2 separate regions of the Homo sapiens genome follow, and region 2 is linked to region 1. The links come from fine-mapping of genetic effects on gene expression. Tissue or cell type: subcutaneous fat. Region 1 holds a variant in brackets; the other region holds the start of a gene. All regions are shown on one strand. Distances are between the middles of the regions.

Evidence for each region. PIP is the estimated chance that this variant, and not a neighbour inherited with it, causes the effect. A credible set is the group of variants that fine-mapping cannot tell apart.
Region 2: NEIL1 starts here. The variant in region 1 is the best candidate, but not a certain one, in a credible set for the expression of NEIL1 in subcutaneous fat (GTEx, PIP 0.73).

What each region holds. Positions count from the first base shown.
Region 1 is chr15:75,241,643-75,246,030 of GRCh38, reverse strand. No RefSeq gene overlaps it. Among named protein-coding and RNA genes, the nearest start is that of GOLGA6C, 14 kb to the left of the region's middle. The variant G/A (reference allele first, on the strand shown) is at 2,348.
Region 2 is chr15:75,344,631-75,349,018 of GRCh38, reverse strand. NEIL1 (nei like DNA glycosylase 1) reads right to left here and starts at 1,980. Exons shown (of 10, transcript NM_024608.4): 1 at 1,546-1,980; 2 at 1-135. The coding sequence starts at 113. RefSeq lists a silencer at 769-958 and an enhancer at 2,179-2,228.

The DNA of each region.
Region 1 (4,388 bases):
GCATTTTTGGCAAAAAAAAAAAAAAAAAAATCATTCTCCCAGAGCAGATTGTGCCTGTGACCTTGGGCCATGATGAGAAATGACCATAGCCTGGTGTCAATGTGGGGCAGCAATGACGACACACCTCATCCTGCTGTAAGGCCTTGTTGGAGGCTCTTTGCCTAGTCTCCAGGCAAGGGGCAGCTGCCCTTCTCTTAGCAAGGAAAGGGGGCTACTTCCTTTAGACCAGAGCATTTAGTGGAAACTGGAGGTTCAAAGTTCTCAGATGTATCCACTTAAGTTTCTCCATATCAGATATCAGGATCCCTTTTCTTTTCATTTTGTTTCATTTCGTTTTGTTTCATTTCTTTTCTTTTCTTTATTTTGAGATGGGATCTCACTCTGTCACCCAGGCTGGAGTGCAGTGGCATGTTCTCAACTGACTGCAACCTCCACCTCCCAGGCTCAAGCAATCCTTCCCACCTCAGCCTCTTGAATAGCTGGGACCACAGGTGCGCAACACCATGCCTGGCTAATTTTTTGTATTTTTGGTAAAGATGGGGTTTTGCCATGTTGCCCAGTCTGGTCTCAAACTCCTGAACTCAAGAGGTCCACCCACCCTGGCCTCCTGAAGTGTTGGGTTACAAGTGTGAGCCACTGTGCCCAGCCCTTTCTTTGTCTTCTTTTTTTTTTGTTTGTTTGTTTTTTTTTTTTTTGACATGAGGTCTTGCTCTGTTACCCCGGCTGGAGTGGAGTGGTGTGATCATGGCTTGCTGCAGCCTCAACCTCCTGGGCTCAAGCAATCCTCCCACCTCAGCCTCCTGAGTAGCTGGAACCACAGGCATGTGCCACCACACCTAGCTAATTTTAAATATTTTGTGGACAGGGTCTACCTATGTTGCCCAGGCCGGTCTCCAGCGCCAGGTCTCAAGCATGCAGCCGTGCTGCTGCTGATGATCCAGGAACCAGATTTGGAGAACTTTGTTCTAGCGCTACTGCATCAGCAATGCCTGCCCTTCCACCTGTACCATATCCCAATCCACAGTAGGTGAGTTTCCTAGTGATGGTATTGCTATAGCCCACCAGCACATCACTACCCCACTTACCACCAACAATGGATCCTGTTGCCACCTGATTAGTGAGTTCCAGGATCCTGTCCTAAAAGTCTACTCTCTAGGGCTACTTTTTAAAATTTTTAAAAAATTTTTATTTTATTTTTATTATTATTTTTGAGATGGAGTCTCGCTCTGTCACCCAGGCTGGAGTACAGTGGCATGATCTCAGCTCACTGCAACCTCCACCTCCCAGGTTCAAGTGATTCTCCTGCCTCAGCCTCCCGAGTAGCTGGGACTACAGCCACATGCCACCATGGCTGGCTAATTTTTGTATTTTTAGTAGAGATAGGGTTTCACCATATTGGTCAGGCTGGTCTCAAACTCCTGACATCAGGTGATTCACCCACCTCAGCCTCCCAAAGTGCTGGGATTACAGGCATGAGCCACCACACCTAGCCCAAATATCTTTATTTTGTCTTCTTATCTGACAGATATTTTCACTAAGAATGGAACTTGAGGCTGGCAGTTATTTTCTTTTGGTACAGTGAAGGTGTCATTCCATGGTCTTCTGGTTCCTGAGGTTTCTGTTGACTGACAGCCTAATTGTTGCTCCTTTGAAGGCAATCTGAATTTTTTCTCAGATACTCTTTTTTGGTAGGGGACCAAAAAAAGGGGTCATGCACTACCAAAGTGCTGGATTACAGGGTCTCACTTTGTCACCCAGGCTGAAGTGCAGTGGTGCAATCTCAGCTCACTGCAGCCCAGACCTCCTGGTCTCAAGCAATCCTTCGACCTCAGCACTTCAAGTAGCTGGGACTCCAGGCATACACCACCACACTTGACTAATTTTTTCTATTTTTTGTAGAGACAGGGTTTCACCATGTTGCCTAGGCCAGCCTTTAACTCCTGAGCTCAAGCAAACCACCCACCTCAGCCTCTCAAAGTGCTGGCATTACAGGCATGAGCCAACATGACTGGCTCGGATACTTTTAAGATTAAAGAAAGTTTTTGCCTTTGGCTTTCTGCAATTTTACCATAACGTGTCTAGGTGTACTATTATTTTTATTTGTCCTGCTTGGGGTTCATGAGGCTTCTTAAATCTGTGAACTATTGTTTTTCATAATTTAAAAAGTATTCTCTGTCATTATTTTTTTAAAATATTGCTTCTGCCTCATTATCTCTTTCTATCCCTTTATTTATTTATTTTGAGACAGGGTCTTGCTCTGTTGCCCAGGCTGAAGTGCTCACTGCAGCCTAGAGCTCCCAGGCCCAAGAGATGCTCCCAGATCAGCCTCTCTAGTAGCTGGGACCAC[G/A]GGCGTGCACCACCACACCTGGCTAATTTTCGTATTTTTTGTAGAGTCGGGGTTACACCATGTTGCCCAGGCTAGTATTGAACTCCTGGGCTCAGGCGATCTGCCTGCTTTGGCCTCCCAAAGTGCTGGGATTCTGTGAGCCACTGCGCCTGGCCCCTCTTTCCTTTTTTTCTGGGATGCTGATTAAAGGTATATTTGGCCTAGTCAAATATGTGGTGGTGTGCACCTGTAGTCCCAGCTACTTGAAGGGCTAAGGTGGAAGCATTGCTTGAGCCCAGGAGATCCAGGCTGCAGTGAGCTGAGATCGCACCACTACACTCCAGCCTGGGTGACAAAGTGAGACCCTGTAATCCAGCACTCTGGGAGTGTATGATCCCTTTTTTGTCCCCCCGCAACCCCAGAAGTATCTGAGAAAAAATTCAGGTTGCCTTCAAAGGAGCAATAATTAGGCTGACAGTCAACTTCTCAACAGAAACCTCAGGAACCAGAAGACCATGGAATGACACCTTCACCGTACCAAAAGAAAATAACTGCCAGCCTCAAGTTCCATTCTTAGCGAAAATATCTGTCAGATAAAAAGGCAAAATAAAGATATTTGGGCCAGGTGTGATGGCTCACGCCTGTTATCTTAGCACTATTTTTTTTTTTAAATGACAAAATATTTTTAAATTATGAAAATATATCTCTAGAGGATCCCTAGTGTATCCTCTGTATCACTTACTTTCTCTTCTGTGTGTTTTATTTTTTTTGTCCCTTCATGTTTCATTCTGAATATTTTCTTCTGAATTACTAGGTTGGTGAAAAAGTAATTGCAGTTTTTGCCATTTTATTTTATTTTATTTTATTTTATTTTTTTGAGATGGAGTTTCACTCTGTCGCCCAGGCTGGAGTGCGGTGGCACAATCTCAGCTCACTGCAACCTCCACCTCCTGGGTTCGAGCAATTCTCCTGCCTCAGCTTCCTGAGTAGCTGTGATTACAGGCTTGTGCCACCACTCCTGGCTAATTTTTGTATTTTTAGTAGAGATGGGGTTTCACCATGTTGGCCAGGCTGGTCTTGAACTCCTGACCTCAGGTGATCTGCCCACCTCTGTCTCCCAAAGTGCTGGGATTACAGGCATGAGCCACCGCGCCTGGCCAGCCATTACTTTCAATATCTTCCAGTTCATTAATTCTCTCTCAACTGTGTCTAATTGGCTCTGGAAACCATGAATGGAATTATTAATTTTAGTTATTGTATTTTGTCTTTCTTTCTTTTTCTAAGAGAGAGCCTTCTTCTACCACCCAGGATGGAGTGTAGTGGTGCGATCATAGCTCAATGTAACCTCAAACTTCTGGGCTTAGGTGATTCTCCCGCCTCACCCTCCTGAGTAGCCAGACCTATAGGCACAGACCACCAGCTGGTCTCAAATTCCTGGGCCTCAAGCAGTAACCCTGCCTCGGCCTCCCAAAGTATTGGGATTATAGGCATGAGCCACTGAGCCCCAAGTTAATGCTATTGTACTTTTCAATTTAGAATTTACTTTTTAAATACCTGTGGTGCTATTTTTTTTGTAGTTTTCTAAACTCTTGCATCTTATATTTTACTTCCTTGAACATATTAAGTATAGTTATTTTGTAGCCTGTGTCTGATTCCAATATCTGGAATCTCCGAGCATGTTTCTATCGTTGCTTCTTTCTGATAGTTCTTGGTTCATGTTGTGTTGTGTCCTACTGAGTCTAGCTACCTTAGTTGTGTGCCAAACATTTTTTAAAAATCAGTTTGTAATGCTTTGAGGCTTACGATAATGTTGTCTTCCTCCAGAGACAATTCTGTTTTCCCATTCCACATACCTGAATACACTAGCAATCCAAAAATTTTAAATTCAATTTTGGGGATTGAGGCCGGGTGCGGTGGCTCACACCTGTAATCTCAGCACTTTGGGAGGCCAAGGCGGGTGGATCACCTGAGGTCAGGAGTTCGAGACCAGCCTGGCCAATATGGTGAAACCCCATCTCTACTAAAAATACAAAAAAATTAGATGGGCATGGTGGCAGGTGAC
Region 2 (4,388 bases), 100 kb before region 1:
ACCTCAGGGTTGCGGCTGACAGAGGACTTCTCCACGCAGCCGCCGAACACCAGCGCCCTGCAGGCCTCATTCACAAACTGGCTGGCCAGGTGCAGCTCGGGGCCCTCAGGCATCCTGAGGGAGGGTGGCAGAGTCCTGTTGGGGAGGAAGGCAGCGGGTTGAGCCCGGTGTGGACTTTGTGAGGTAGCGGCTGTCAGCCCCATTTTTAGAGGAGAACTCGGAGGGTCAGATGGGCATGTGGCCAGCTGCGGCTGGCAGGAAAGTGCGGGCCTGGCCACGGCCCTCAATCCCCTACCCGGACAGGTGCCTGGAAAGCCCAGGGCGCTGGGAGCTGGGGCTGCAGAGGGAGCAGGACTCTGCCTTGCTGCTAACCGCTTCCTTCCATGGGCTTCCACCGCGTTTAGACGAAAGTCCCAATCCTTGCGGGGCCGCGGCTGCAGCCTTACTTCTTCCCGGCTCCCCTCACTCACGGATCTCATCTCCGCCTTGGCCCCTGCTGTCCCTCTGTCCCAGACACTTGAGGGAGACTTCCTGACCCCCCATCTGAGGGAGCACCCCCTCCGCACACGCTGTCTCTTTCTCCAGGCTCTCCCACCATCTGAAAGGGTCTTAGGATCGCGTGGCCGCCCCTCCCTGCGCCCCCCTCCCCCCACACTTAGGACCCGCCTGGATCTGGCCGCTCACCACCGAGGGAAAGAGCGAAGCTCGGCCTGGCGCGGGGGAGCGGCGGGAGCGGCCGAATCGGCCGCTTGGCCGCAGCGAGAACCGGGCCTGCCCCACGGACCGGACATCCCCGCGGCCGCCCCCGGGTCAGGGCAGGGGCCAGGACGAGGCGGGCGGGCTGCCGCCATGCGCTGGAGCCGCTCCCCATGGCTCCGCAGGAGGACGGCGGGCACCAGGAAGGGCTCCCCGAGCTCCTGCCCCGGGCCTGGGGGAGGGAAAGGGCCCGCGGCAGCGCCTGGTCCCTGGGGTGGGGGGTATCGACTCCTCACCTCCGCCCTCCCTGCTTTGCCACTTGCCTCTGTCCCCGGGCGGTTCGGAATCGGAGGCGAAGGTGTGCCTTAAGTGGAAGGGGGCACTTAGCGACGGCAGACGCCCGTACCTTGCCCCCTCCACACCTGGGAGCCGCCCCTGGCCTGGCACCCACAGGGCTCGTTTTGCGGGAGAACGTGAGGCTCCAAATCCTAGTTTTGGGGAGGAGCGGCGCTCTCGGGCCCGTCCTCCCCATGCCCCCGCTGCGACCCTGTCCTCGGTTAATCCTGACTCCCCTCCTCCTCAGGGCCCCCCAAAGCTCATCTTCTCCTTAGCCCTACAGCGCACCCCCCACAACCCGATCCTGCACGCCCCCTCCCCGGGAACCCGCACTCCGTTCCGCTCGTCGCCACTGCAGCCACTAAAGGGTTAACGCCAGAACGGGCGGTGCCCGGGAGCGCGCTGGGAGCCGCTGGGAGGTGTAGTCCCTCAGGGAAGCGGTCGCGATTCTTCGGGGTGGGGTCCCCGAGCTTGGGGGGTTCCAGGCTTTGGGGCAGGCTTCGGGGCAGTTACCTGGCTGGGAGGTGGCGGAAGAACCTGACTTCCCACTGCCTGGCGCCGGCGAGATGCGGGGGCAGGTCTGAGGCCCCGGGTCGCCGCTGTCTCTGCGGTTGGGGGAAGTCACCCAGCTAGCGTGGGACAGGGTCGGCACCCCCAGCAGGAAACAGCAGCGACGAGCCAGAGCGGAGTCGCCTGCAGCTGCGCGCAGGACGTGCACAGGTGCGCGGTACGCACAGGCCCTAGGGACCCGGTGGGGATCTTAAGCACCAACGAACAGTCAGACCTAACTCATAAACAAACATCATCACGGCCTGCCCTGTCAGAAGCGCAGCCAAGCAACAACAACAACAAAAAAAGGCGAGGAGGTAGACCCACTTGAGATGGTTCTGTTGCGGAGAGTCTCTGAAATCAGAAAGCGCCAGTCCGCAAAAACGAGGAAACCCGACGTGTCCGGCGGAAGGAACCGCCAGTACAAAGGCCCTGAGGCGAGAAAGAGATTGGTCACTGAAAGAACTCAAAGAAGTCCTGTGTGGCTGGAGTATAGCTGCGGGTTAGTGCTGGCAGGTGAAGACAGAGAAGCAAACCCAGGTCAGGTCCGGTTGGGCCTCGGGAGGGCCTCCGTGTGGAGTCTGCACTTCATTCTAAGTGTATACCTAACCCATCGCCACGATTTCCCCTCCTTCACACTACCCTGCTACGTCTCCTTATTAGGCGTAATAAAATTATGTGGCTTTGTAAGAAATTGGTTTTTAGAGATGCATGTTAAAGTATTGGGTATGAAATGTCATGATTTGTCTAATTTACTTTAAAATACTTCTGCCATAATAAATGAATAGAATTAACAACTTGATATTAGTTGACAATATCTAATAATATCTAAGTTATTAGAAATTAGTTAACAGTAACTTCTTTTTTTGAGACAGGGTCTCACTGTGTCACCCAGGCTGGAGTGCGGTGGTGAAATCTCGGCTCACTGCAGCCTCCACTTCCCGGGTTCAAGTGATTCTCCTGCCTCAGCCTCCCGAGTAACTGGGATTACAGGCGTGTGCCACATGCCTGGCTAATTTTCATATTTTTAGTAGAGATGAGGTTTCGCCTTGTTGGCCAGGCTGGTCTTGAACTCCTGACCTCAAGTAATCTGCCCGCCTCGGCCTCCCAAAGTGCTGGGATTACAGAAGTGAGCCACCATGCCCAGCCAACAGTAACTTCTTAATATCATCTAATAGCTAGTCCACATCCAGATTTCCCCAATTGTCCCAAATATATATATATATACACATATAGACAGGGTCTCACTCTGTCCCCCAGGCTACAATCATGGGTCATTGCAGCCTCCGACCTCCCGGGCTCAAGTGATCCTCAGCCTCAGCCTCCCAAGTAGCTGGGACTACAGGCACACACCACCACGCCTGGCTAATTCATGTTTTGTAAGGATGTGGTCTCACTATGTTGCCTGGGCCAGCCTCAAACTCCTGGGCTCAAGCCATCCCCCGACCTCGGGGTCCCAAAGTGTTGGGATTACAGGCGTGAGCCACCGCGCCTGGCTGGATTATATCTTTTTAATAATTTTAAATCTAGATGAAACCACCTTCCCTCTCCCACCCACTTCATCCCCTTCTTTTATCTTCATGATACCTTTCTGAAGAGTCTCAGCCAGTTGTTGTTTGAGATAGATGCTGCATCACATTCTCAATTTGTCTGAATGTATCCTCAGGGTGTCACTGATATTGTCACAGAGATTGGTCCTCTATCTGTGGTTCATCCTGCATGCTGGGAATTAGATCTAAAGGCTTGATTATATAAATATTCAGGGATACTTCCTAGGTGCTGCTCTGTACTTCGTTGTTTTTTGTTTTGTTTTGTTTTATTTGAGATGGAGTCTTGCTCTGTCACCCAGACTGGAGTGCAGTGGCACGATCTTGGCTCACTGCAACCTCTGCCTCCCAGGTTCAAGTGATTCTCTTGCCTCAGCCTCCTGAGTAGCTGAGACTACAGGCATATGCCACCACTCCCAGCTGATTTTTGTATTTTTAGTAGAGACGGGGTTTCACCATGTTGGCCAGGCTGGTCTCAAACTCCTGACCTCAGGTGATCTGCCTGCCTCGGCCTCCCAAAGTGCTGGGATTACAGGGATAAGCCACTACGCCTGGCCACTGCTCTGTACTTTGAATTGCATCATATCAGGAGGCACCCAATATCTCATTGTCCCACTTTATTGGGAGCTGAAACTGATCAAGACAGGGGCTGTGGCAGCCAGACCTCTGCATTAGAAAACATATGGTTCATACCTTGTGAACACCAAATAATCTATGGAGTAATTTCTTTGTTGTTCTCTTGTTTAAATAAAGGTATAATTTACATATAGTAAAATTTACCCCTTTCAGACTGCAATATTTGACAAACACATAGTCATGTAACTGCCACCCCAATGAAGAGATAACACACATTGAAGCATTATTCCCAAGATGTGGAAACAACCAACCGATACATGGATTTTTTAAAATGTGATATATAATAGGCTGGGCATGGTGGCTCATGCATGTAATCTCAGCCCTTTGGGAGGCCAAGACAGGAGGACTGCTTGAGCCCACGAGTTCAAGACCAGCCTGGTCAACATAGGGAGATTCCATCTCTATATAAGAAAAGAATTAGCATAGTGGTATGCATCTGTAGTCCCAGCTACTCCAGAGGCTGTGGTTGGAGGACTGCTTGAGCCTGGGAGTCAGAGGCTACAGTGAACTGTGATCATGCTGCTGCACTCTAGCCTGGATGACAGAGTGAAACCTTATCCCCATCCCTGCCCCCCTAAAAAAAATGTGGTATATGATGGAATATTATTCAGCCTTTAAAAAAAG